Linked DNA regions of Homo sapiens: all the other regions are reported to be linked to region 1. Evidence: microRNA targets listed by miRTarBase, many of them from high-throughput screens and not tested one by one. Region 1 holds a microRNA gene; each other region holds the end of a gene's coding sequence.

Region 1 (5,106 bases):
AACTTCATCCTTGCTATGGTTTGAATATGTCCCCCTAAAATTCATATGTTGAAAACTTAATCTCCAATGCAACAGTGTTAGGAGATGGAGCCAAATAAGGGGTGAGTGGGTCATACAGGCAGAGTCCTCCCATAAATCCTGCCATAAGGACTAAAACTACTACTGTCATTATTGAAGTAGCGGGGTAGTTATAAACAAGTTCAGCCCCTGATGTCTGTCTCTTTCTCTGTTTCTTGCCATCTAATGCCTTCTGCCATAGGATGTCCCTTGCCAAATGTTGGCACCATGCTTCTGGATTCCTCATCCTCCAAAACTGTGAGGAAAAAACATTTTTATATAAATTATCCAGTGTGTGGCATTTTGTTATAACAGCAAAAAATGAACTAAGACAATCTTCTTAGGATCAGAGAAGATACTTTCTATAACTATCTTTTCAATCTAATGAGACTTAATTTATGAAGTAACATATAGTCTATTTTGGAAAATGTACCATGTACACTTGAGAAGAATGTGTACGCTGTTGTTGCACAGAGTTAGGTCTAATTGTTTTTTTTTTAATGTATTGCATTTTCTTATTTATCTTTGTTTTTTTTTTCTAGCCATTATTGAGAGTGATTTATTCATCTTCAACTATTACTGTGGAACTGTGTATCATTCCCTTCCATTATGTAAGTTATTTCTTCATATAATTTAGTGATCTGTTACTAGGTTCATAAATGTTTATACTTGTTATAACTTCTTACTGTATTAAACCTTTTATTAATATAGAATGTCCTTCTTTGCCTTTTGTAAACTTTTTGATTAAAGTCTATTTTGTCTGTTCTCAGTATAGCTACCCTGCTCTTGTTTGGTTATTTGCCTGAGAAATCTTTTTCTGTCCCTCTACCTTCAATCTATTTGCATCTTTGGATCTAAAATGAGTCTCTTGTACACACATAGATCTTTTTTAAAAAAATCTATTTTGCCAGTCTTTTGATTAGCTCATTTAATCAATTTATAAGTAATTTCTGAAAAGAAGGAAGCTACTTCTGTCATTTTACTATTTTTGAATTCTTTTTTTTTTCTTTTTTTGAGACAGAGTCTTGCTTTGTCACCCAGGATGGAGTGCCATGGCACAATCTTGGATCACTGCAGCCTCCGCCTCCTGGGTTCAAGTGATTCTCCTCCCTCAGCCTCATGAGTATCTGGGACTATAGGCATGTGCCACCACACCTAGCTATTTTTTGTATTTTTAGTAGAGACAGGGTTTCACCATGTTGGCCAGGATGGTTTCGATCTCCTGACTTCATGATCCACCCACCTCGGCCTCCCAAAGCGCAGGGATTGCAGGTGTGAGCCACTGCGCCCAGCCACTATTTGAATTCGTTATAGCTTATAGATGTTTCCCTACATTTCCTGCATTACTATCTTTTATATTTAGTTGTCTATTTTATTTTCTTTAGTGATTTGCTTAAATTTCTTTCTCATTTCCTTGTATATAGCTATTTTCTTGGTGGTTACCATAGGGATTATATTTTAGATCCTGCATATATAACATTCTAATTTAAATTTGTACCACCATAACTGCAATAATATATAAAAACTCGGCTCCTTCAAAAGCTCCATTCCCCCACCCTCTCAATTTTTGATGTCACAAAATTATATCTTTATGTATTATACAAAAATATAAACATGTAAGTATTTTAAATTCATTAGTCTCTTAAATTATGTACAAAACAAAATTGGAGTTACAAAGCATAATATGAACTTTTATACAAATTTAAATATATATATATTAACCTCTTAAAGCATGTAGAACACGAAAAGTGCAGTTAAAAAGTATTGTTACAATAATATAAGCTTTTATAATTTTCTATGTATTTTCCTTTATTAAGATCTTTATTTCTTTACACAACTTCAAGTTACTGTCTAGTGTCTTCTCATTTCACTCTGCAGGAGGATTTCTTGCAAGTCAGGTCCAATGGTAACAAGCTCTCCCAACTGTTGTTTTCCTGGGGATGTCTTAATTTCGCCCTCACTTTAAGGACAGTTTGGCTGGATATAAGATTCTTGTTTGATAATGTTTTCTGTTTTTGTTTTTCTTTAGCACTTCGAATGTCAGCCCACTGCCTTCTGGCCTGCAACGTTTCTGGTGAGAAATATACTGATAATCTTACTGATTATTCCTTATAAGTAATATATTGATGTTTTTCTGCTGCTTTTAAGATTCTATCTTTGTCTCCACCTTTTAAAGCTTTGATTATAATGTATTTCAGTTTATGTCTTTTTGAGTTCATCTTCCTTGAATTCTGTTGGATTTCTTGAATGTTTATATTAATGTCTTTTATCAGATTTGGAAAGGTTCTATCCGTTGTTTCTTCAAGTTTTCTCTTCTCTTTCTCCTCTCCTCCTGTGACTCCTTGATTGTGTCACACAGGTCCCTTAGACTCTGTTTACTTTTTTCAATTCTTTTTCCTTCTGTTCCTTGATTTCCATTGTCCTATCTTCAAGTTTACTGACTGTTTCCTTTGCTTGCTCAAATCTTCCTTTGAATCGCTCTAGTAAATTTTTTATTTAAGTTGTTGTACTTTTCAGCTCCCAATTTTTTTTAACTTCTTGTGAGGTTTCCTATCCATTGAATTTTTTTCATTTTGTTCATATATCATTTTCTTGACTTTCTCTATATCTTCCTGTAGTTCTTTGATCATTTAACACAATTATTTTAAAGTCCCTCTGTAGCAGATCCACCATCAAGTCATTTTAGGGATTTCATATTTTCCTTTGGACAAGACATAGTTTCTTAATTTTTTGTATGAATTGTGATTTTGGATCTAATAACATAGTAACTCTAAAAATTAGATTCTCCCTCTTACTGAGAGTTTGCGGTTACTTCAGTCAATGATTTTGCTTTTTATATTGTCATAAGAGGATTCTGTTGTAGGCTATCTCTGTGCCAAGAATCAGTCTGAAGTGTAAACTTAAAGACTGTCTTTTCTAAGCCTGTGCCAAAGGAAAGGCAAGGCACAGGCTTAGAAAAGACAGTCCTTAAGTTTACACTTAGTAACTTAGTCATTTTCTGATTGTCACCATATGTGCAGTTACTTTGAATGCCCTACTTTTTAATGTCTAGCTGTCAAAGGGGGAAAAACAGAAAAATAAAGTAGGAGAAGGGCACTGGCCCTTTTAATCTTCTGGAAGTCACTTCAGCCAGCAGGGAGGGGCTTGCAATAATGGATAGAGGTGCAACAATAACCACTCACCTCTTTGCGTCCATCTTTGTGACCAGAAACAGCAATCAGCAATCAGAGCAAAGATTGCCGATATTTGGATGACAGGTCCTTTTTTTGCCCACTCTGGTTCCTGCATGCTCTGTGCAGACTGCTCCAGTAACATGTGCACAGCTGCCTGCTACAGGGGTGACTGTGGGAAATGGGTAGCTACTACTGTGGTTAAGTGCTGAAATTGACTGAAATTAATCATAATTCGCCATGCAAGCTTTCCCCTAGAAGTTGCAAGCCTTTAGTAGATGTCAAAAATCCAAAATAGTTATATATCAGACAGATTCTGCCAGTACAATTGTTCTCTAGGTGGGAAGACAGATTCCTGGTGCTTCCTACTCCACCATATTTCTATAACTATTTCTCCATAATGTTTTAACTACTGTAATTTTGTAATATCCTTTGAAGTCAGGAAGTGCAGGACCTCCAGCTTGTTCTTTAGATTGTTTGGGCTCTTTTTGGTTCTCTGCGGTTGCATATGAATTTTAGAATTGCTTTTTCTATTTCAGAAAAAAAAAACAGCTATGGGTATTTTGATATGGATGGTATTTAACCTGTGGATAGCTTTAAGTAGTATGGACAACAATATTAAGTCATCTAATTCATGAATATATATGTCTATTTATTACCATCTTTATTTTCTTTAGAAATGTTTGTAGTTTTCAGAGAACAAGTCTTTAGTCTCCTGTTAAGTTTATATTTCTATGTATTTTTGATGCTATTTTAACCCAATTTTTAAAAATTTCCGTTTCAGATTTATGTTAGTATATGAAATCACAACTGATATTTGCATATTGATTTTGTGTCCTGCAACTTTGCTGAATACATTTATTAATTCTAGTAAGCTTTTTTATGTGGAATATTTAGGATTTTTTACATTCCATTTCTTTATTCCCTCTTTGCTCTATAAAGACAACACCATAAGGGTTTCATATGCTAAACATTCAAAAACACTTCTTTAAAAAAGCTATCTACTATCAACTGCCTCAAAGCCATCATTGAGATATTAGCTGAATATAACAGTTATTACATCATTTAATTTCAGTGTCAAAGCTTTACTTTCTTCATATAAAAAAAAACTATTTGAGTGTCTTTTTAAATAAATACACATGCATACCCACACATATCCTAGGCCGTTAAATTTTAATTGGCCTGGTATACATTAGCCATTTAGGGGGTTCCCGCTCCCAGAGATCCCATATTAACATGTTTGGAAAAGTCTGGTATTTGCATCTTTGTAATGCAGTGGCTATAGACAAGCAAAAGTTAAAGTCTACAGCTACAAATCCAAACCTATGGTACACCAAAGATGTATAAGCAAAGGCCTTGCTCAATTAGTCTAAAGATTTATCTGGGCATAGATTTTTATTTTCTGTCACCTAGGCTGGAGTGCAGTGGTGTGATCTCAGCTCACTGCATGCAACCTCTGCCTCCTAGGTTCAAGCAATTCTCCTGCCTCAGCCTTCCGAATAGCTGGGACTACAGGAGGATGCCACCACACCTGGCTAATTTTTATTTATTTATTTATTTTTTTGAGACGGGGTTTTACCACGTTGGCCAGGCTGGTCTTGAACTCCTGACCTCAGGTGATCCACCTGCCTCGGCCTCCCAAAGTGCTAGGATTACATGCATGAGCCATCGTGCCTGGCCCATAGACTTTTTTCTTTTTTTTAACACCTATTGGATTGCTAAAATTACTTATGTTTAAATATTTTAACTCCTCTGTGGAAGGACACTACTTTGATTTGTTATGTTCACTCTGACTGATATCTGAGGCTGGCCTCAGGGGTCTGCAGATCTAGTCCTACTCAGCCATTTAAGTAGCTGCATAATCTTGGGAAGATTTTTA
Region 2 (5,106 bases), not on the chromosome of region 1:
AGCCTCCCGAGTAGCTGGGATTACAGGTGCCTGCCACCACGCTCAGCTAATTTTTGTATTCTTAGTAGAGACGGGGTTTCACCATGTTAGCCAGGATGGTCTTGACCACCCACCTCGGCCTCCCAAAGTGCTGGGATTACAGGTGTGAGCCACTGCGTCCGGCTATAATATGTTCTTAAGTACAGTCCTAGTCCCTTTCAGTTTGAAAGTTTTGTTTTTAATCTTGCTTTAAATAAGTGGTTGGGTCTTAGATATTTTAAAACTTTAATTTGAATATAATTTTTTTTTCTTTTTTAAAGGTTTTTGATGACTGCCACGAAGGTGGTGAGATTTCACCATCTAACTGTATTTACATGACAGAGTGGCTCGAATTTTAATAGAGAGCTATGAACTTTATTGACATTTTGCAAATGAAGTTACTTAGGGAGCAGATAATTTAATTCATGATGGAACACGAAATCTCCTTGAAAGCAAACTTCACAATAATGGACGTAGACTTGCTGCTATGAAAACATATTTTTTTTATTTATGAAGACTAAATTTATATTGGTAAAATAGCCAGTAGAATATGAAAGAAATAAGGTTAGTAGTGAAATTCATTCTTCAATAAATAAAACACTTTGAAACTCCGGAGGACCACATCTTTCAAGACTTCTGATGGGTCAAGGAAAAAGATGCCAACATACCCGTATTTACCAAGTACTATGATAATGGCTAGAGTATAAAAATGTTCTTTTTAAAGTTATTTATTAAGTTCTTCATTGGAAGTTTTTTTTTATATCTGGTTCACTACCACCATTTTCTGTTTCCTACTTTCTCAGTGGTTTCATTGAAAAGAAATTAGAAGGGGTTAAAGGCAGGAATAGCAAAGAGTGCAAACTTGGGGTATGACTGGGGGAGAGTGGAACATGCCTTTTCCGCACAATATTAATTCCTTTTTGTATCAGAAATGTTCTTTTAGGAGATTATGCTACCATACTTACTTCAAACCCAATGACTACTGTCAAGGACATATTTTCAGTACATAAATACTATCATTTTCATTCTAAAGAATATTTTCACTGTTCCTTCTTTCTTAAAGTCTTATGTTTCACTCTTTAACTCAAATGTATTCTTTGTTAGAATTTACCCTAGATTCTTATTTAATGTCTGCAGTAGACTGAATGTTTGTGTGCCCCCAGAATTCTAATGTTGAAATCTCATTTCCAATGTGATGGTATTTGGAGGTGGGGCTTTTGGTAAGTGATAGGTCAGGAGAGTAACAGCGCTCATGAATGGGATTAGTGCCCTTATATAAAGAGACCCAGAGAGCTCCATCACCCCTTCTGCCATGTGAAAGGGAGAAGACAAACATCCACGAACCAGGAAGTGGGTCCTCACCAGAAAACAAATCTGTAAGCACCTTGATCTTGGACTTCTCAGCCTCCAGAATTGTGAGAAATAAATTTCTGTTGTTGATAAACCACCAGTCTATGGTATTCTGTTATAGCATTAACTGAAACTAAATATACTCCGTGCCCTCCATTCACACTTTATTTTGAGAGAGGGGATAACATTCTTTTTCTCTTACTCTGTTTTAGATTTATTTCCCTTCCTTATTCTGTTCTAAATCATGGTGTGATGTGTCTAAGCAGAAAGCCATTATAATTGTCCTCAGTTCTAATAACACTTTCAGTTCCTATGGTCAGCCACATAGAAAACACTAGGTTATTTGATGTATTGTTGCACAGAAGTTGACTGTGCGGCTTTTTAGAATTGCAGCTTCATATTTTCACTTTGTAGCTCCACTTAGAAGTTTCTGTATCCAAGCCAAAAACATGGGACCCATGGAAAGGAATTCAAGCTCCACTAGTACTGAGGGTTGGGTTCTAATACCAGTTTGGAGATGCTCTAAGTGGATATCAGAAGAGTTATTTTAAGATAAATGGTATCAGTAAAATAAAATTCAGGCCACATTCTGTGAATTAGCATTTGATGACACTAGCTCTTTGTAACAAAAATTATTTCAAGTATTGAATATACATACATATATAAGATACACAGCCTTTTGGCCAGAACCCCCATCTTCCAGTAATTTGCCAAAATGATGAACACAAACGGAAAGAGGAGAGGCACCCGATATATGTTCTCTAGGACTTTTAGAAAACATGGAGTTGTTCCTTTGGTCACGTATATGCGAATCTATAAGAAAGGTGATATTGTAGACATCAAGGGAATGGGTACTGTTCAAAAAGGAATGCCCCACAAGTGTTACCATGGCAAAACTGGAAGAGTCTACAGTGTTACCCAGCATGCTGTTGGCATTGTTGTAAATAAACAAGGGCAATATTCTTGCCAAGAGCATTAATGTGCATACTGAGCACATGAAGCACTCTAAGAGCCGAGATAGCTTCCTGAAATGCATGAGGAAAATGATCAGAAAAAAAAAAGAAGCCAAAGAGAAAGGTACCTGGGTTTGCCAGGGATGGTGGCTCACGCCTGTAATCCCAGCACTTTGGGAGGCTCAGGCGGGCAGATCACGAGGTGAAGAGATCGAGACCATCCTGGCCAATATGGTAAAACCCTGTCTCTACTAAAAATACAAAAATTATCTGGGCATGGTAGCGCACACCTGTAGTCCCAACTATTCAGGAGGCTGAAGCAGGAGAATCGCTTGAACCTGGGAGGCGGAGGTTGCAGTGAGCTGAGATCGCGCCACTGCACTCCAGCCTGGTGACAGCGAGATTCCGTCTCCAAAAAAAAAAAAGAGAGAAAGTTACCTGGGTTCAACTGAAGTGCCAGCCTGCTCCACCCAGAGAAGCACACTTTGTGAGAACCAATGGGAAGGAGCCTGAGCTGCTGGAACTTATTCCGTATGAATTCATGGCATAATAAGTGTTAATAAAAGATCTCTGGACTGTAAAAAATTATATATATAAATATATATAAATATAAATATATATATAAATATATATAAAAATATATATGTAAATATAAATATATATATATGTAAATATAAATATATATATATATATATATATATATATATATATATATATATATATATATATATATATATGAAGGATCTGGGAACCTGAAACTACAGACAGAGGGTTTCTCTTCCACCCTCAGTGAGAGTTGGAATGGTAAGAACAATGTCTGTCCTTCCTGGGACTTGGCCTATCAAAAAGGCACTAGTTTTATGTAGTAAGAAAAATGAACTTGGAAGAGAGCTAGAAATGAGAAGAAACCAGCTTGTATGTTTTAAATATAGACTTTGTCTTATGTCTTTATAGCTAAAGATTGGTTTTTAGAGCTTAACATTCAATGGCTAAAACAAAAGTATTCCTTACCTCACCAATAAAGAGAAACTTCAAGCTTTTTTCCCATGGTATGTTTTTAATTCTGAAAATTAACTGAAGGAGACAAGAGACAATTTAAAATTACAGCACCTCTGATGAATAGTTAAATGGATCATTTATCCTACAGGGATAAACTGTAACCAAAACAGATTGTGGGGCTCTAGACTCCGGACAGCACCAAAAATTCAAGTTGCATATGAAGTCCTAATACTTACAGTTGATTTCCATTCAGTATTCGGTATTTTGCTCACCTGAGAATAGATACTCCCCAGAGTGTATAGAGGCCCCTGTATATTCAATGATGACCACAAAGAATCAAACAGAAATCAGAAATGACAGTCCATGGCTCTATGGTTTTTAATGAATAGTTTGTGTAGATTTTCCCATGAAACACCCCTGATCTTAGTTGGGTGATTTATAGACCTATGATGTTGGTGGTGATCAGCTAAGCAAACTAGCCAAACAGAAGTAATTTCAAATTAAGTCACTTTTACTTTGTGCTATTACTCATTATTGGATGGTGGGTGAGGGGAAAATACAAAATATATGTCCTAGACCAATGTTGTCCAATAGAGCTTTCTATAATGACGGAAATAGCCTATATTGGCTGGTCAGTAAGGTAACCAATAGCCACCAGTGGCTGTTGAGCACTTGAAATATGGCTAGTTTGACTGAACTGAATTTTCAATTTTACAGCTAGCTGTGGTTACTGGTTACTATATTTGGCAGCAAAGTTCAACAATCCTATAGGTCTATCTTAATTACTTTTATAGGAATGAAGAGTATCAGAATTATTTCTCAATTATATATATTTAGTTTTCATTTCTACAGAGAAAGAGGTCAACAAAGTTTTGTGAACTAAATTGTATAAGTTTCTTTTTTAGGAAAGGACTTCACAGAGAACAAGGCAAAGAATAAGTAATACAACAGCAAATTTCCAAAAAATTCAAGTAGAATCAAACTTTGACTATAGATTTGGTCAAATTAGTGCTAAACAGCCTCTTTAACAACATTATTATTCAACTGATTTATATAATTTGCTTTTTAGTAGTCAAATACATTGTTTTAAATCTTAATTATTTTTGATTATAAAATACATGCTTAGTGTAACAAATTCAAATAATCAGGAGGATAAAGTAAAATAAGGGGCCGGGCATGGTGGCTCATGCCTGTAATCCCAACACTTTGGGCGGCTGAGGTGGGTGGATCACTTGAGGCCAGGAGTTCGAGACCAGCCTGGCCAACATGGTGAAACCCTGTCTCTACTAAAAATACAAAAATTAGCCAGGCGTGGTGGCACATGCCTTTAGTTCACACTACTTGGGAGGCTGAGATGAGAATCACTTGAACCCGGGAGGTGCAGGTTAGAGTGAGCTGAGATTTGTGCCACTGACCTCCAGCCTGGGAGACAGAGCAAGACACTGTCTCAAAAATAATAATAAGGACGTCCACCACACTTTACCTACCAAAATGCCCATTCCCCAAAGATGATTGCTGTTGAACGATTAGGGTACCTTTCCTGATTTTTTTTGTCTAAGCACATTTAAAAACCAAGACTTTTGGTTTTGAGCGATAGCTCTGAATCTCCTTTAGGTATGAAGTGTAGGAAATTGTATTTCTGCAGCAAACTTAGGCTTTGCAACATCAAGTGTGGATTCACTGGAAATTATTTGAAGGAACACATAGCGATCATAATAGCCAAAAAATGTTGGGAAATGAAAAAGGGTGGGTTTTTTTAATTAAAAAAAAATTTTTTTTTTTAAGA
Region 3 (5,106 bases), not on the chromosome of region 1:
AGGTGCTGCGTTTGCCATAGGCCACTCGCCCTCAAACACTGACTGTCACAGTCACAGGGAACAGCATTTCCTAAACCCACTTGGCCGTGGATCAGTGAGAGTGTCAGGGTCAGGGTTTCACAGATCATATGTGAAAGTGTTTCTTAGGGCTAGTACTCAAAACCAAAAAGATATCAAGTGCCTCATTTATGGCTTAGGGTCAGATTTTTTCAGCTGGAAATGAAACAGCCATTTATATTGTTCTTTTAGCTTGTAGTTAAAACAAGGTTAATTCCTCATGCTGCAGATACTGCTGATCTGATCACTCTTATGTTTTCTTTCTTTTCTCAGCCTTACGGACATCCAAAAATTGCTTGGAACTGACTTCATGGGTACCATAAGTACAGAGAACAAGGGATGCTGAGGCTTCTGATCCCAGCCGCCAGGCAGTTTTACAGGGCTCTGTTAACAGTAAGTGCCCGGGGCACTGTCAGATGGCTCAGCAGTGCCTGCTCAGGTTCATCATTGAAACATCCCAGTGTTTGGCCAGACATTAAGGTGTCGTGAGAGTCCCTTTCATGCCTTTCTTACCCAAGCAAGGGTCTTTGATGGGCACGTGTTTACAGCGCTGCTGCATAGTCTTGTAATATATTAACAGTCACATCAACTGAAGGTCAATACTAAGAGCCACAGGTTGTACCTGTGATGGGGCGTGTGGTTTCCTGTTGTCTCACCTTTAATTGTCAACCTCCAGTGTTGACTCTAGAAATATGAGGAAAGCTTTTCAGTTTTTAAAATTGCCATTTAAATTTAGTCTATTAAAAACAAACCTAGAGGTCTTGGTGCAGTTGATTTCAGAGTTTATTAATTTAGTGGTCCCAAAAGTATTACATCTTTTATATTCTGGAAGAAAAGAACTGTGAACAAATTAGAACCCCGGAACACTCTGACGTCCATGGACGCATTCCAGAAAAGTGGCAAGAGATGAGTCTTTCCTCCTCCAGGAAGCATTTTGGTAGAATTTCCATAGAGCATTGTCTGTGAGTGACTGATCCCAACATGTATGTTACTAAGCCCCAAAACGAACTTCAAACTGGGTGTGGTGGCACGTGCCTTTAGTCCCAGCTACCCGGGAGGCTGCGGCAAGAGGATTGCTTGAGCCCAGGAGTTCGAGTCCAACCTGGGCAAAAGAGTGAGACCCCATCTCTAAAACCAAAAAGGTACCTTAGAAGGTCACCTGGTTGGCTAACCTTTTAAAGGCAGGGGCGTGACACGTAGGACACATTGGGAATGTCTTGGCTACTACATGTAGCCTTCTGGGATATATGTGCCCAGAGGGAGAAGCACTGAGCCTGAAGAAACTAGATGAGTCTCAGAACCACAGACCGGCCAGAAATCTCTCCCACCATTATATCAGCGTGATACAGGTCTACATTCATTTCTACAAACAGGAACAAGTTCCTTGCAGCAATAATATTATTTTATGACTTGTATTTTTACTATACCCTTCCTCTGAGGTTTAGTTTTCATCACATTATGTTCAAGATTCCATATCTCCGTAAATTACAGCTAATTACAGGGCATTGTTCCATGGTTATTAAAAATCAGAGTTTATTAAAAATCCTGAGTCTTAAGGGCTGTCTTACCTTTCACTTCCACTGTCCTGTAGAAACAGATCAAGCTGCAAACCACGTCCTTCATCTGTTGTTCATTTTCTTGCAACTCTTTGACTCTGATCCCCTGAGCAGCACGTTCATCACGCATGCTCTCTGTTGCGTTCCCCATTTCAGATGTCCAGTAATGGTGAAATAAAATCCTGCTTCGACAGCATGGCTTCCTGGCTTTGTTACGGATTTTCTGATTGACTGCCGTTAAGTGCATTGTTGGTGACAGGCTTTTTACTGATTTAATCCACATCTCCCACATACAGGCTTGGCTATTTTCTATGACTGATCACGTTTTATAGGTTATATTCATTTTTCTTAGGAAAGTGGTTTCTCCCTTCTTTCAATTGGAACCACAGTGAACTGAGTTTAAACCTTTTTTTTTTTGAAACACGGCTTTGTTCTGTCACCCAGGCTGGGGTGTAGCAGTGCAATCTCAGCTCACTGCAACCTCCACCTCCCAAGTTCAAGTGATCCTCCCACTTCAGCCGCCCCAGTAGCTGGAACTACAGGTGTGTGCCACCAGGCCTGGCTAATTTAGTAGAGATAGGGCTCTTGCCATGTTGCCCAAGCTGGTCTCGAACTCCTGGGCTCAAGTGATCCGCCTATCTCAGCCTCTGAAAGTGCTAGGATTACAGGCATGAGCCACTGTTCCTGGCCTGAATTTTTTTTTTTTTTTTTTTTTTGATACAGAGTCTCACTCTTGTTGCCCAGGCTGGCGTGCAATAGTGTGATCTCGTCTCACCGCAATCTCCGCCTCCCGGGTTCAAGTGGTTCTCCTGCCTCTGCCTCCCGAGTAGTTGGGATTACAGGCGTGAGCCACCACGCCTGGCCAGTTTTGTATTTTTAGTGGAGACAGGGTTTCTCCATGTTGGCCAGGCTGATCTCGAACTCCTGATCTCAAGTGATCCACCTTCCTCCTCTGTCTCCCAAAGTGCTGGGATTACAGGTGTGAGCCACCACACCCAGCCTAATTTTTTGTTTTTGAAGCCTGGTGGTAATCATTAGCATTAAAATTATGTTACACTGGTTCACTGCCCTAATTAAATGTTTCTGCTCTACACTGGTCCAAAATAATTTGTTTTCTAAACTTAAAGTTTCCACTGTCTTACTATTTCTACTGTGGCCCATACACCTCTGGGCCCAGGGTATTTGCATTTTGTATTTTTATTGTGTTGTAGTTACAGATACATATATGGGTTTTATTGTTGCTAAGCACCTTTTTCTACTGACTCGAAATGAGTGGTTTCTAGATTATTCTTTGGCAGTTTCTTCTACAAAGGTCCATTCCTTTGGTACAGATGGTGCTGAAACCACTGCTAGGAAATGCTTCTTGCACTGGTATAGAAGTGATGACTTGGCTGGGCGCAGTGGCTCACGCCTGTAATCCCAACACTTTGGGAGGCCGAGGCAGGCAGATCACGAGGTCAGGAGATCGAGACCATCCTGGCCAACATAGTGAAATCCCGTCTCTACTAAAATACAAAAGGTTAGCTGGGCATGGTGGCGCTTGCCTGTAGTCCCAGCTACTTGGGAGGCTGAGGCAGGGGAATAACTTGAACCGGGAGGTGGGGGTTGCAGTGAGCTGAGATCATGCCACTGCATTCCAGCCTGGATGACAGAGCAAGACTCCGTCTCAAAAAAAAAAACCTCGCTTTCTGCTCCTCGCTTAGCACACGTTCTCTCTAGGGAAGGTACTAGGCCTGGGAAGTCACAGCTGACCATGAACAGTGACAAGAGTCAGACGCTCGAATCGGACACATGGATGAGCAGACGTCACTGGCAAACAGCCAGTTGTCACTCATGGGGCTGAAGAGATGTTTGTGCAATATGTACAGTCTATACATCCATATTTATGGATACGACTTTTTCATCTGGGTTTTTAGGTAGTTTTTGGTGTTCATAAAATATAGAGCAATCATTTAAAAGATATTGTAAAGCCTTTAAAAACACTGGCCTTAGCAGTTCTTGATGACCTCGACTAAATTCAGCCATGAAGCTCTGTGGAGTTGGATTTTAGGAAACTGATTTTACATTGTAATGTCTTCCTTTTAGAGGGATGTTTATGCCTTAGTATCACTCAAAACACAGTATCTACCTCAAAGGATACATGCGTGGTTTTTTCTGCAGGTAGCTGGAGTTTTTTACTGCTGTAAGAAACTGATTGTATAAATTCACTATCGTTCGTTTGTTCATTGTCACTTGTTTAGTTTCCAGTTTTTTCTATTAAAATGGAGTTGCTGGAATCCTCCGTGCACATAACTTCTAGTTCAGGTATTCTAGTTGATCTCCAGCAAAATGACTAGAAAGGGGCCACTTTCCATATTACAGCCATCAGGATCATGATGGAAAAGCCTGGATTTATGTCAGGGTACTGCCTTGACGCTGCCCTAGCGCTTTTCTTCTCATTTTCTCCCAATTAACTGCTCTAGACACTGCAGCTCCCTTTCTTCATTTCCCCACAACACTCCCTCTTCCATTTCCATATGGAAATGCTTACAGTAGGAGGCTGGCGGGCGGGGATCCCCCACGTGAGGGTGCTCAAGCTGTGCGGCACTGTGGTCCGTGCCGCTGACTCCTGGCTCCTGAGACAAACCAAGCATCTGGACCTAAGCAGCTGGGCCACCGACACTGGCTTCCAGTTCACATGTACAGCTCTTCTCTATCCATCGGGGTTGCTGATACACATGGGGTTCTGTGGATACTTTGCAGTTACTGTGGCCTCTGCCGGTCATAATGGAGCAGTGCTAGTTTTCTGGGCCCAGGCCTCACCACCCAGGCCCTCCTAGGTGATGTGAGCCAGGCCTCTGCCTTCTGCTGCCATCCTCACATCAGTAACTCCTGGCTCTGCAGCTCTAGTCCAGACTCTGATGTCCCTACCTCTCTGACATCTCCACGGTGTCTCAGAGGTGCCTCAAGCTCAGCATAGCCAAGACGAATGAGTGATCTCCCCCAAACCCCCATCAGAAAAAAAACCCCAGACGCATCTGGCCCTTCTGCAGTGTTCTCAGATAAGCGCCTGGTGATGCCATCTATCCTGCCAGTTGATTATGCCTTAGACCGAGGGCACCGGCTCCTGGTGGCCTCCTGAACCTTTGGCCATCCACTTTGCTCTTTAATGTCCACCCTTCATGTCACCAAGCCAGCCCATTTTTTTCTTCATCGTAGAGTCAGAGATCATTTACAAATAAACACCTGAAATGAGACTCGTCCACCTTCTTCAGTGGCTGCTCACTGCACTTAGTACCAAGAGCCAAATCCTTTCCTGGCCTACAAGGCCCTGTCCTGACCGGCCCTGCAGAGCTTTCCTGAAATGTACTGCTCTGCCTTCTGGCCCAGAAGATAGAAATACCAGATTGGTACAAAGATGTTGCTCACAGCATTAGTATGGTAACAGAAACCAATAACCTAGGCATCTAACACCAAGAGGCTGTTTGAGCTTGGGATGTTATGCAGTGAATTA
Region 4 (5,106 bases), not on the chromosome of region 1:
ATTTGTCACTTACCAGTCATTGTACTTTTGCTAATTATTGTCTGTTCCTCCTTCCAAGATGGAATGCAAGCTCAGCAAGGCAAGGGCAGGGACTTAGTTTCACTCTGTGCTGTAAATCAGTGCCCGACGCGTGGTAAGTGCTCAAATATTTGCTGAATGAATGAATGAAGGATGGTGGTTCTTCCCTCAGGCTCAGAAGCGGAATCAGAAAGCCACACCAAACAGTCCTCGGACCCCTCTTCCACCAGGTGCTCCCTCCCCAGAATCAAAGAAGAACCAGAAAAAGCAGTATCAGTTGCCCAGTTTCCCAGAACCCAAATCATCCACTCAAGCCCCAGAATCCCAGGAGAGCCAAGAGGAGCTCCATTATGCCACGCTCAACTTCCCAGGCGTCAGACCCAGGCCTGAGGCCCGGATGCCCAAGGGCACCCAGGCGGATTATGCAGAAGTCAAGTTCCAATGAGGGTCTCTTAGGCTTTAGGACTGGGACTTCGGCTAGGGAGGAAGGTAGAGTAAGAGGTTGAAGATAACAGAGTGCAAAGTTTCCTTCTCTCCCTCTCTCTCTCTCTTTCTCTCTCTCTCTCTCTTTCTCTCTCTTTTAAAAAAACATCTGGCCAGGGCACAGTGGCTCACGCCTGTAATCCCAGCACTTTGGGAGGTTGAGGTGGGCAGATCGCCTGAGGTCGGGAGTTCGAGACCAGCCTGGCCAACTTGGTGAAACCCCGTCTCTACTAAAAATACAAAAATTAGCTGGGCATGGTGGCAGGCGCCTGTAATCCTACCTACTTGGGAAGCTGAGGCAGGAGAATCACTTGAACCTGGGAGACGGAGGTTGCAGTGAGCCAAGATCACACCATTGCACGCCAGCCTGGGCAACAAAGCGAGACTCCATCTCAAAAAAAAAATCCTCCAAATGGGTTGGGTGTCTGTAATCCCAGCACTTTGGGAGGCTAAGGTGGGTGGATTGCTTGAGCCCAGGAGTTCGAGACCAGCCTGGGCAACATGGTGAAACCCCATCTCTACAAAAAATACAAAACATAGCTGGGCTTGGTGGTGTGTGCCTGTAGTCCCAGCTGTCAGACATTTAAACCAGAGCAACTCCATCTGGAATAGGAGCTGAATAAAATGAGGCTGAGACCTACTGGGCTGCATTCTCAGACAGTGGAGGCATTCTAAGTCACAGGATGAGACAGGAGGTCCGTACAAGATACAGGTCATAAAGACTTTGCTGATAAAACAGATTGCAGTAAAGAAGCCAACCAAATCCCACCAAAACCAAGTTGGCCACGAGAGTGACCTCTGGTCGTCCTCACTGCTACACTCCTGACAGCACCATGACAGTTTACAAATGCCATGGCAACATCAGGAAGTTACCCGATATGTCCCAAAAGGGGGAGGAATGAATAATCCACCCCTTGTTTAGCAAATAAGCAAGAAATAACCATAAAAGTGGGCAACCAGCAGCTCTAGGCGCTGCTCTTGTCTATGGAGTAGCCATTCTTTTGTTCCTTTACTTTCTTAATAAACTTGCTTTCACCTTACCGCCTCGTCTTGAATTATTTCTTGTGTGAGATCCAAGAACCCTCTCTTGGGGGGTCTAGATCAGGACCCCTTTCTTGTAACACAGCTACTTGGGAGGCAGACGCAGGAGGATCACTTGAACCCAGGAAGCAGAGGCTGTGGTGAGCCAAGATCACACCACTGCACTCCAGCCTGAGCAACAGAGTGAGACCCTGTCTCGAAAAAATAAAAATCCTCCATGGATAGGCCATCTCATCCCAGACCTGGGCATTCGGAACAGCCTGACAAATCTGTCCTGAATGGCCTTCTCTGAATATGGTGTTCTGAGAAGGCAGGCAAAGATTTGCCTTTGACACACCCCAGCTCCAGTCCAGAGGACTGCGCAGTTTCATGGGTTCTCAGAGATGGGAGGGTCTTTAAAGATGACTAGATACAGCCAGGCGCAGTGGCTCACGCCTGTAATCCCAGCACTTTGGGAGGCTGAGGCTGATGGATCGCTTGAGGCCAGGAGTTTGAGACCAGCCTGGCCAACATGGTAAAACCCCGTCTCTACTAAAAATACAAAAATTAGCTGGGCGTGGTGGTGCGCAACTGTAGTCCCAGCTACTCGGGAGGCTGAGGCAGATTTGCTTGAACCCAGGAGGCCGAGGTTGCAGTGAGCTGAGATGGCGCCACTGCACTCCAGCCTGTGCAACAGAGCGAGACTCTGTTTAAAAAAAAAAAAAAGACTAGATAGGCTCCTCAGTCACCTCCAGCCTGCTGCCTATTTTCATACCACCTGCAAGCTAGAAATGTTTTTACATTTAAATGCTTGGGGAAAAAGTCCGAAGAAGAAGACTCTTCTGGGGCCCCTGGGAAGGAGATGAAATTCAAATTTCAGTGTGGTGCCCAACCATGCTCATTCCTTTACACATTGCAGTTATTTTCATGCAGAGTTGAGTCACTAGCCTGCAAAGCCTAAAATATTTACCATCTGATCCTTTACAGAAGTTGGCTAGATCTTAATCTACATAAACTCATTTGTTTTCACAGAAGAGGAAGCGAGCGCAGAGGTCCATAAAGAGTTCAAGAGTAGCCGTGGGAAAAATGACTAGGTCTGTGACTACAGGAAGGTTTTCAGGGTGAGGATTGGAAGGGCAGGAGACTGCATGTGGATGGGGTGCTAATGCGCTCTCAGACCCACAAATCTAAAGAAGTGCAAACGCATGCGGGGATGGAGGTTGGAATGCTTTGGAAATGGAACAATGACAAACTTACAACATGCTAAGAATCACACAGTGGCTCACGCCTGTAATCCCAACACTTTGGGAGGCTGAGGTGGGCGGATCACCTGATGTCAGGAGTTCAAGACCAGCCTGGCCAACATGGTGAAACCCCGTCTCACCTAAAAAAATACAAAAATTAGCCAGGTGTGGTGGCGGGCACCTGTAATCCCAGCTCCTCGGGAGGCTGAGGCAGGAGAATTGCTTGAACCTGGGAGATGGAGGTTGCAGAAGCCGAGATCATGCCACTGCATTCCAGCCTGGGCAATAGAGTGGGACTCCGTCTCAAAAGAAAAGAAATAGAGCAAAGGAGAGCACTTTGCTGGCCATCTCCTCTGCTGACCTCTGCTCCTCCATAGCCACCCAAGGGGCCTTTCTTCGGTAGTTATTGCATCGTTGGTGACATGGCAAGGTGGCCCTCTCTGGTGTGTTTTGTTTCCTGGCTGTGCTAAACACTCCAGATACTGAAAAATAAAAAATTAAAAACTGAGCTGGACACGGTGGCTCACGCCTGTAATCCAGCACTTTGTGAGGCCGAGGCAGGCGGATCACTTGAGCTCAGGAGTTCGAGACCAGTCTGAGCAACAGAGCGAGAGCCTGTCTCTACTAAAAATACAAAAATTAGCCAGGTGTGGTGGCAGGTGCCTGTATTCCTCAGCTATTCAGGATCCTGAGGCATGAGAATCGCTTGAACCTGGGAGGCAGAGGCTGCAGTGAGCTGAGATCGCGTCACTGCACTCTAGCCTGGGTGACACAGCGAGACTATGTCTCAAAAACAAAGAAAAAACCTGAATTAGCTGCAAGGACCAAAGTTGGCCACCAGACGTCGGTATACCCAGGATGATAGGACTATAGACTCATGGTGTGGAATGGGATCACCCAATGCAGCCACCTCATTTTACAGAAGGACTTCAGAGAGGGACAAGGTCTTGCATGTCACACAGCTGAACTCCAGAGCTGGGATTCAAACTCAGGCCCAGGATGGGTGAGCACTGCTGGTTACACAGTCTCCTTTAAGCTTAGAGTGGGAAGGATGCTGCAAGGGCTTGAGAAAAAGGGAACTCCCTACAAGCTGCACAAAGACTGAGACTCTGCTTCCTTCCTTCTACCACCAAATTCTGCCATGAGAGCAACCCTTGAAGATCTGTTTGACCTGGGAAATTACAAGATTGCATTGCTAAGGCACCAGGTTTGACTAGGTGTCAGTAACTTTGAAATGTGTGTGTTAAGGTCCTGACTTCTGCAATAGTGACTTGGGACTTGGAGGGAGGGCATTGTTATCCAGTACTCTTGGGGAAAGGCAATGTTGTGCAAATGAAAACAAACAAACAAACAAACAAAAACACCAGGCTTGGAGTCAGAAAACCCAAGGGGAACTTTCCGTATTGCCAAATATTCTTTTTCTTTTTTTTTTTTTTTTTTTGAGACAGTCTCGCTGTCGCCCAGGCTGGAGTGCAGTGGTGCAATCTTGGCTCACTGCAAGCTCCGCCTCCCGGGTTCATGCCATTCTCCTGCCTCAGCCTCCCGAGTAGCTGGGATTACAGGTGCCTGCCACCGCGCCCAGCTAATTTTTTGTATTTTTAGTAGAGACGGGGTCTCACTGTGTTAGCCAGGATGGTCTTGATCTCCTGACCTTGTTATCCGCCCGCCTCGGCCTCCCAAAGTGCTGGGATTACAGGCATGAGCCACTGCGCCTGGCCCCCAAATATTCTTTTTAACCAGTCAACTGGGACATTAACTGCAGGAAGTATGAATATAAAATAGTTATATGTTTTCTGATCACTGAGTCAATCATGTTTTTTTGTTTGTTTGCTTGTTTGGTTTTCGTTTTTGAGACAAGAGTCTTGTTCTGCTGCCCAGGCTGGAGTGCAATGGTGCGATCTTGGCTCCCTGCAAACTCTGCCTCCCGGGTTCAAGCGATTCTTATGCCTCAGCCTTCCGAGTAGCTGGGACTACACGTGTGCGCGCCACCACACCCAGCTAATTTTTGTATTTTTACTACTAGAGATGGGGTTTCGCTATGTTCACCAGGCTGGTCTCCAACTCCTGACCCCAACTGCTTTGCTTGCCTCAGTCTCCCAAAGTGCTGGGATAACAGATGTGAGTCACCGTGCCCAGCCTCCTCTGTTTCTTGATATGAGAGTTGTGTCCCCTGCTTCTCCCATACCTTCTCCAATTCCACCATTGGCAGACACCATGCAGCCTCTTACCGCTTTCTTGGGTGACATATCACCTAGATTGCAGAAGCCCAGCTACCCTCCTTCGTGTCCATCCACCCCCTGCTATAGACAAAATGTATGTGTCCTTCCAAAGTCTAGGTTGA
Region 5 (5,106 bases), not on the chromosome of region 1:
CAGAAAATTCACTGGGTTTACCCTCTCTCATTGGATCTACTGGACTTCATTGGCAGAAACCCAGAGAAGTTGGGGTCCTGCTCTCCGCCTGTTCTGGGACAGCCCTGTCAATTGTGGGGTGCTTTTGTAACCCAGGGTCCCCGGGTTTTCTGGCAGCCTGTGGAAAAGTGCCCACTGGTAACTGTTGCACCCTGAGTTCTCCTTGTTTCACAAAAATTCCAGGAAGCAGCCCAGACCCAGCAAAATAAAAACTAGTTGGATCCAGAGGTGCCTAGTTGGAGGGAACTTTGGTGAACTCTTCTCCTTACTGCACTAAACACTCCGCCCAGGGAGGAACTTATTTGCCATTTTCTACCCATGCGAAGGATGTAGAAGCATGATCAATGACTGTCCCTGCACCAGCCTTACTCCACCTCACAGGGGTGGCCAATCTTTTGGCTTCCCTGGGCCACGTTGGAAGAAGAATTGTCTTGGGCCACACATAAAATACACTAACGATAGCTGATGAGCTAAAAAAAAATTTTTTTAAATCGCAAACAAAAATCTCATAACATTTTAAGAAGGTTTACGAATTTTTGTTGGGCCACATTCAAAGCCATCCCAGGCCACATGTGGCCCTTGGGCTGCAGATTGGACAAGCTTGACATATGATGACTCAGCTCAGCTCACCAGCCCGATAAAAGCTGTTTTCACCTCGTTCAGGGAGGTACTGCTTTTGGGAACTATCCCTGGCATCCTCCTCACGCGTTGCCAATAATGAAACCCTTGGTGAACTCCTCCTTAGCTGTGGTCATTGGACCATGAACCGCCAAGTGATTGAACCCTAATACTTTGACCTTTGAGCTGCCGTCGGTCTGACCACAGAAAGAGAAGGTGGATGGCAGTGCTTCAATTACATATAATATAGATATGCTATGCAGTATTATTTTTATAATTTCTAATACAAATGACTATATACTGTCTTAATGGACTTAGAAATGATGCCATAGTGGAGACCATCTTTCCCAAAGGACAGGTGAGTTCCCCTACCTCCATCCTCATCTGAGAGTGGGCTCCAGGGTCTCCCTGGCTCCCCTTTCATGCAATTTTTGCTGGGCAGATTCCAGTGCCCATCTTGACAGCACCCGGGCCGGCTCCGCCTTGGGACACGCCCTCCCAGGGGATACCCTTGTGTCTTAGCAAAAGGTCCTGAAGCCAGGAGGCTGGTCCGCTGAGTCAAGGTTGCTTCATGGAGCCTATTTTGACTTCTCTGTGGACCATTCCTACTTCTCTTCCCAGTGCCGCTCAAACTGTCAGTTTCAACCCACAGGTCCCTTTGTGACTTGGGTCCCCACAACATGTGATTATTGCCTCTCCTACTCTGCTGTCCGCTGTCAGTTGAGACAAATAAGCCATGTGTTTTGGCATTAGCAATGGGCCTCCTGCTCAGGGAGAAAATGAACAAACCTGTCCATCTTCCCTTTTCACTTCCCACACCTGGCATGCTTGAAAGAACCAAGGAGGTGGTATTGCCTCGGCTTGCCATGCACCCCTCATTCCTAATCTCGAGGTGATAGAATTTGGATGTAGTGACAGGATGAGCGTTGCTATGACAACCCACTGATGCTAGGTGCTCCATAAGAGGGCATTTTTGACAGGTCCTCGCAAAGTCTGCCATTTGTGTGGGGACCAAATCTCCTATATTTGTGCACTAGACATACCTAGGGACATAGCACCCTTTATGCCTTCAAAATGCCGCATGCATATTTGTGGGCGTCCCTCTTAAAGAAATAGCAAAGCCTTACTTTGTAATTTGGGAAATAAGAACCAGGTTTGTACTGGAAGTGGACTCGAATCTGGACCTTTCTCTGGGCTCACAGGACTCAAGGCCAGGACTCAATCAAAACATCTGGCTTGCTAGGATGATTCCAAGGGTCCAAAGGGCAGTCATGGGACTATCATGTCGCTTTCTGCATAATTTTTCATTCATTTAGTTCGAGCTGTACTGGCTCCTTCAATTCAGAACTCCTCAGGCTTCTTCAGGCAGCCTGGGCCTTGCAGTGGACTCATGAAGGTTCTTGTCTCTCCCCTTCCCCTCTCTCCTCAGGTGCTCAAATACGCAATCAACCACCAGTTCCTGTGTTTGCAAACTTCCCACTTTGAGACTTCCAACTGTAAGACTGTATATTGTCTTAATGGACTAAGAGTGAGAATGATGTCATAATGGGGACCATCTTTTCCAAGGGACAGGTGAGTCCCCCCTCTCCATCCTCATCCAAGAGTGGGCCCCAGGGTTCTCCTGCCCCCTTTCCTGCAAACTTTCCTCAGATGTGAGGAAACTTCCAACTTTCTCTAAATATAAAAAAAAAAAAAAAATCACATCTGTTAATAGACCTTTTAAAAAAGCCCAGCTAGGCAAGGCTGCCCAGGAACACCAGAGACACCAAAAGAACAGGAAGAAATATGCCTTTTATTAGGAGTTGCATATGTACAGAGAAAGCTGTTTCTCACAGCTCAGGGGAGGCTGTGAGAAAGAGCCACTGTCATCCAAGGTCACTGCGCGTACACTGGTAACACCACTTAGACACCGCCGCACGTGATTAAGAAACAGAACCATGACACAGAAATGCAGAAGAGACACGGGTACGTGTGTGGACACATCATTTCTAAAAACAAGTCAACACAAAAATACAATGTGCCAATAAAAAAAAAATAGACATATCCATACATGTCTTTTTTTCTGTTTTTAAAGTAAATACATGGTATGCTGAGCTTTCACCTCCAGCTTTTTCCACATCGGGATTCACAGGCACTTTAGCACCCCAGCCATGGTTTACAATACAGGATGTTCAGAACAATGAAGGAAGATGGGAGCCACCGAGATCCCCGAGACCCACACACACACTCTAATACTGACGCGAGAGTGAGCTTCCTGCCACCACCGCTGTGGGACCCGAAAATGTTCTCTGTGTGATGTGTAACGGCTTTTCCTTTGTCTTTTATGTTTCATGGCAGAACTACTTAGGAGCGCGGCATCGCCAGTCAGACATGCAGTGTGTGGATGCATTAGACAAGCATCAATTGCCTCTGACTTGAAAAACCGTAGAGAGCAGATCAAAATGACTGTCTGGTTTATCTCTGTCCCATTCTGTGCCCTTCCTGACAAGCTGTCAGAACAAAAACTAATTAAAATAATTACTAGGATGTACTGGGCCATGAGCTCTTCCTAGGAGAATTTCTTTCTTAGCTCTCCCCTCATGATAGACACAGGGCCAATGGCAGGCCCAGCTTCCCCCGGCAGGAGCCACTCCTGTCTCCCACGTTCCCCACACAGAGCTGTGGTGACTCAACCCACGTGTCAGGAACAGGACCGAACAAGCGTATGTATAAACGCAGACCAGGATCATCACTTTATTGGTAATGTTGAGTCATAAGGCAGTTACAAAAGGACCCCCATGGTGACCAAACAATGTTGGACTATGGCTTAGCTTCTGTAATAGGATGACCGACTCTCCCGTCACAAAGAGCTGAGAAAGGAAAGAGAAAACCACAGTGATGACAAAGTACGACAAATGGCTGTGCTGTGAAGTACCAGAAAGCCCCAATTTTTGGTGTATGTCGCCCACTTTTCCTCCACCAGAGACTAAGATGTCATCCCATAGCTAAGAGAACTTAGAGGGAGAAACAGGGCCGCACGTCATCCTCCACTTCAGGTGAATTTGTCACTGCAAGTGGTGCAGGGATGTTACAACCAAGCCGCGGACAACTCATGAGTAGGGCCGAGATTCCTGGTACTGTGGAGAGGCGCAGAGCATATGAACACCTCAAACAGATGATTGTCACAGGGTGGGAAATCCTTCCATGAAACAGACACTTGAGACATAGTGGCAAAGACATTAAGGCCTTCCATTTCTTTGCCTACACCGCTTAAAGGCACTGATACCAACAACAGAAATACTCCATAGTACCATCGAGGTTTTAAAAAAACTCCCAAAATACAAGTCTTCATAGGAAAATGTCTTTTATTGCGCGACATGAAGCATCCGTTATTTGCGTGCTCAGGAATAGAAGGGCCTCCCTTTCTCAGGAGTCTGAAGTCTGTTCAGCCTCGCAACCTGAGAAGGGGAGGGGGGCACATCTTGCCGGAAGGGCCCCTTGGGAGGGGCGTAACTGGGGTCCTGGACTTTCTTATACGAGTCATAGTTGCTGGGCCCCTCGGAAGGAGGCTGCTTCTTCATCTGCTGCTCCTTCCGCCTCTGTTCCTGGCGAAGGAGCTCCTGAGTTTCCAGCATGACCCTGGCGTTGAAGCCATGTCCTCCCAGGTAGCCGTTCCTGGAGCCTTGGTAGCTGGAGTACCTGGGGTTCTCTTTGGCACTCTGGAAGCCTTCCCCAGGGGAGTAGTTCTGCTCCCAAGAGTCCTGGGAGACCGAGCTGGCATTTTTCCTGCTTTGCCTAGAAAGCAAAACCCAAAGGTTAGTGTGAGGGTAGGAAGAAGGAGGGAGAGGGAGGAAAGGGGGCAGGATGGGATGGAATATGCATTTTCACTTTTCAACAAATATTCCTGTTCTCTCATCACATGCCAGACACTGCGATAGGGGCTGGAGAATTCAAAAATGACTGTCCTCAGCAAGCGCATAGTCTTAGACAACTAAACTAACAACGAGTAAACAGGAGAGAGAACTAGACTGTGCAGCTATTTAGAAACAGGGTCATCCTCCTGTGTCTGAGAAGGTTGTGTCTGTTCTGCTTAGGGTACCAATATCTCCTGCAATTTAGACACACTGGCAAAGTATAGAAGTATTAGAGGTTTGGCAGCTTCCATGGTAGGAATAATTGCTCGCTTTAGAACATTACAATTCAATTCTAAACAAGCACAACAAATATTTTACACAGCTGCCACCATAATGCCAGAAGCGCTAGCTAATATGAAGTACATGTAATGGATTACAGTATGAGTTCGGTTATGAAAGATTTAAGTCTAGACTCCTTTATGATAAAAAATGCAACAGGCAGTCCCTTAAAGCTCTGGCTTTCAAGTTGTGTATGTCAGCAACTTACACTCTCCGGGATACCTGCTCATCCAGATTGGACGGAGAGTCCGGAAGTCTGTAAAGTAAGCACTATTTT

The links. Region 1 holds the annotated microRNA hsa-miR-4438 (CACAGGCUUAGAAAAGACAGU, at 2,964-2,984, opposite strand). A microRNA usually pairs through its seed, bases 2 to 8, with sites in the 3' UTR of a target mRNA and lowers its output. Matches are read on the target gene's strand: a 7mer-m8 pairs with bases 2 to 8, a 7mer-A1 pairs with bases 2 to 7 and ends in A, and an 8mer does both.
Region 2: miRTarBase lists POLR3F as a target of hsa-miR-4438. The part of its 3' UTR that is shown has no 7-base or 8-base seed match.
Region 3: the mRNA of TCHP is a reported target of hsa-miR-4438. The part of its 3' UTR that is shown has no 7-base or 8-base seed match.
Region 4: the mRNA of SIGLEC10 is a reported target of hsa-miR-4438. Seed matches in the 3' UTR shown: 7mer-A1 at 634-640, 7mer-A1 at 769-775 and 7mer-A1 at 1,060-1,066.
Region 5: the mRNA of PARD3 is a reported target of hsa-miR-4438. The part of its 3' UTR that is shown has no 7-base or 8-base seed match.

Annotation. Positions count from the first base shown.
Region 1 is chr2:213,756,000-213,761,105 of GRCh38, reverse strand. It overlaps MIR4438 (microRNA 4438), which reads right to left and starts at 3,039; the gene lies at 2,947-3,039. The region is part of intron 10 of SPAG16 (sperm associated antigen 16); the gene reads right to left.
Region 2 is chr20:18,483,182-18,488,287 of GRCh38, forward strand. It overlaps POLR3F (RNA polymerase III subunit F), which reads left to right. Exons shown (of 9, transcript NM_006466.4): 9 at 300-1,465. The coding sequence ends at 377. RBBP9 (RB binding protein 9, serine hydrolase) reads right to left here. Exons shown (of 5, transcript NM_006606.3): 5 at 3,359-5,106. It also overlaps the pseudogene RPL21P3. Among named protein-coding and RNA genes, the nearest start is that of RBBP9, 11 kb to the right of the region's middle.
Region 3 is chr12:109,916,261-109,921,366 of GRCh38, forward strand. It overlaps TCHP (trichoplein keratin filament binding), which reads left to right. Exons shown (of 13, transcript NM_001143852.2): 13 at 331-1,809. The coding sequence ends at 363. Among named protein-coding and RNA genes, the nearest start is that of TCHP, 19 kb to the left of the region's middle. RefSeq lists a silencer at 1-95 and an enhancer at 4,192-4,692.
Region 4 is chr19:51,406,456-51,411,561 of GRCh38, reverse strand. SIGLEC10 (sialic acid binding Ig like lectin 10) reads left to right here. Exons shown (of 11, transcript NM_033130.5): 11 at 191-1,542. The coding sequence ends at 463. Among named protein-coding and RNA genes, the nearest start is that of SIGLEC10-AS1, 6.7 kb to the left of the region's middle. RefSeq lists enhancers at 2,112-2,612, 3,630-3,679.
Region 5 is chr10:34,107,132-34,112,237 of GRCh38, forward strand. It overlaps PARD3 (par-3 family cell polarity regulator), which reads right to left. Exons shown (of 25, transcript NM_001184785.2): 25 at 2,430-4,431. The coding sequence ends at 4,038. Among named protein-coding and RNA genes, the nearest start is that of LINC02629, 210 kb to the left of the region's middle.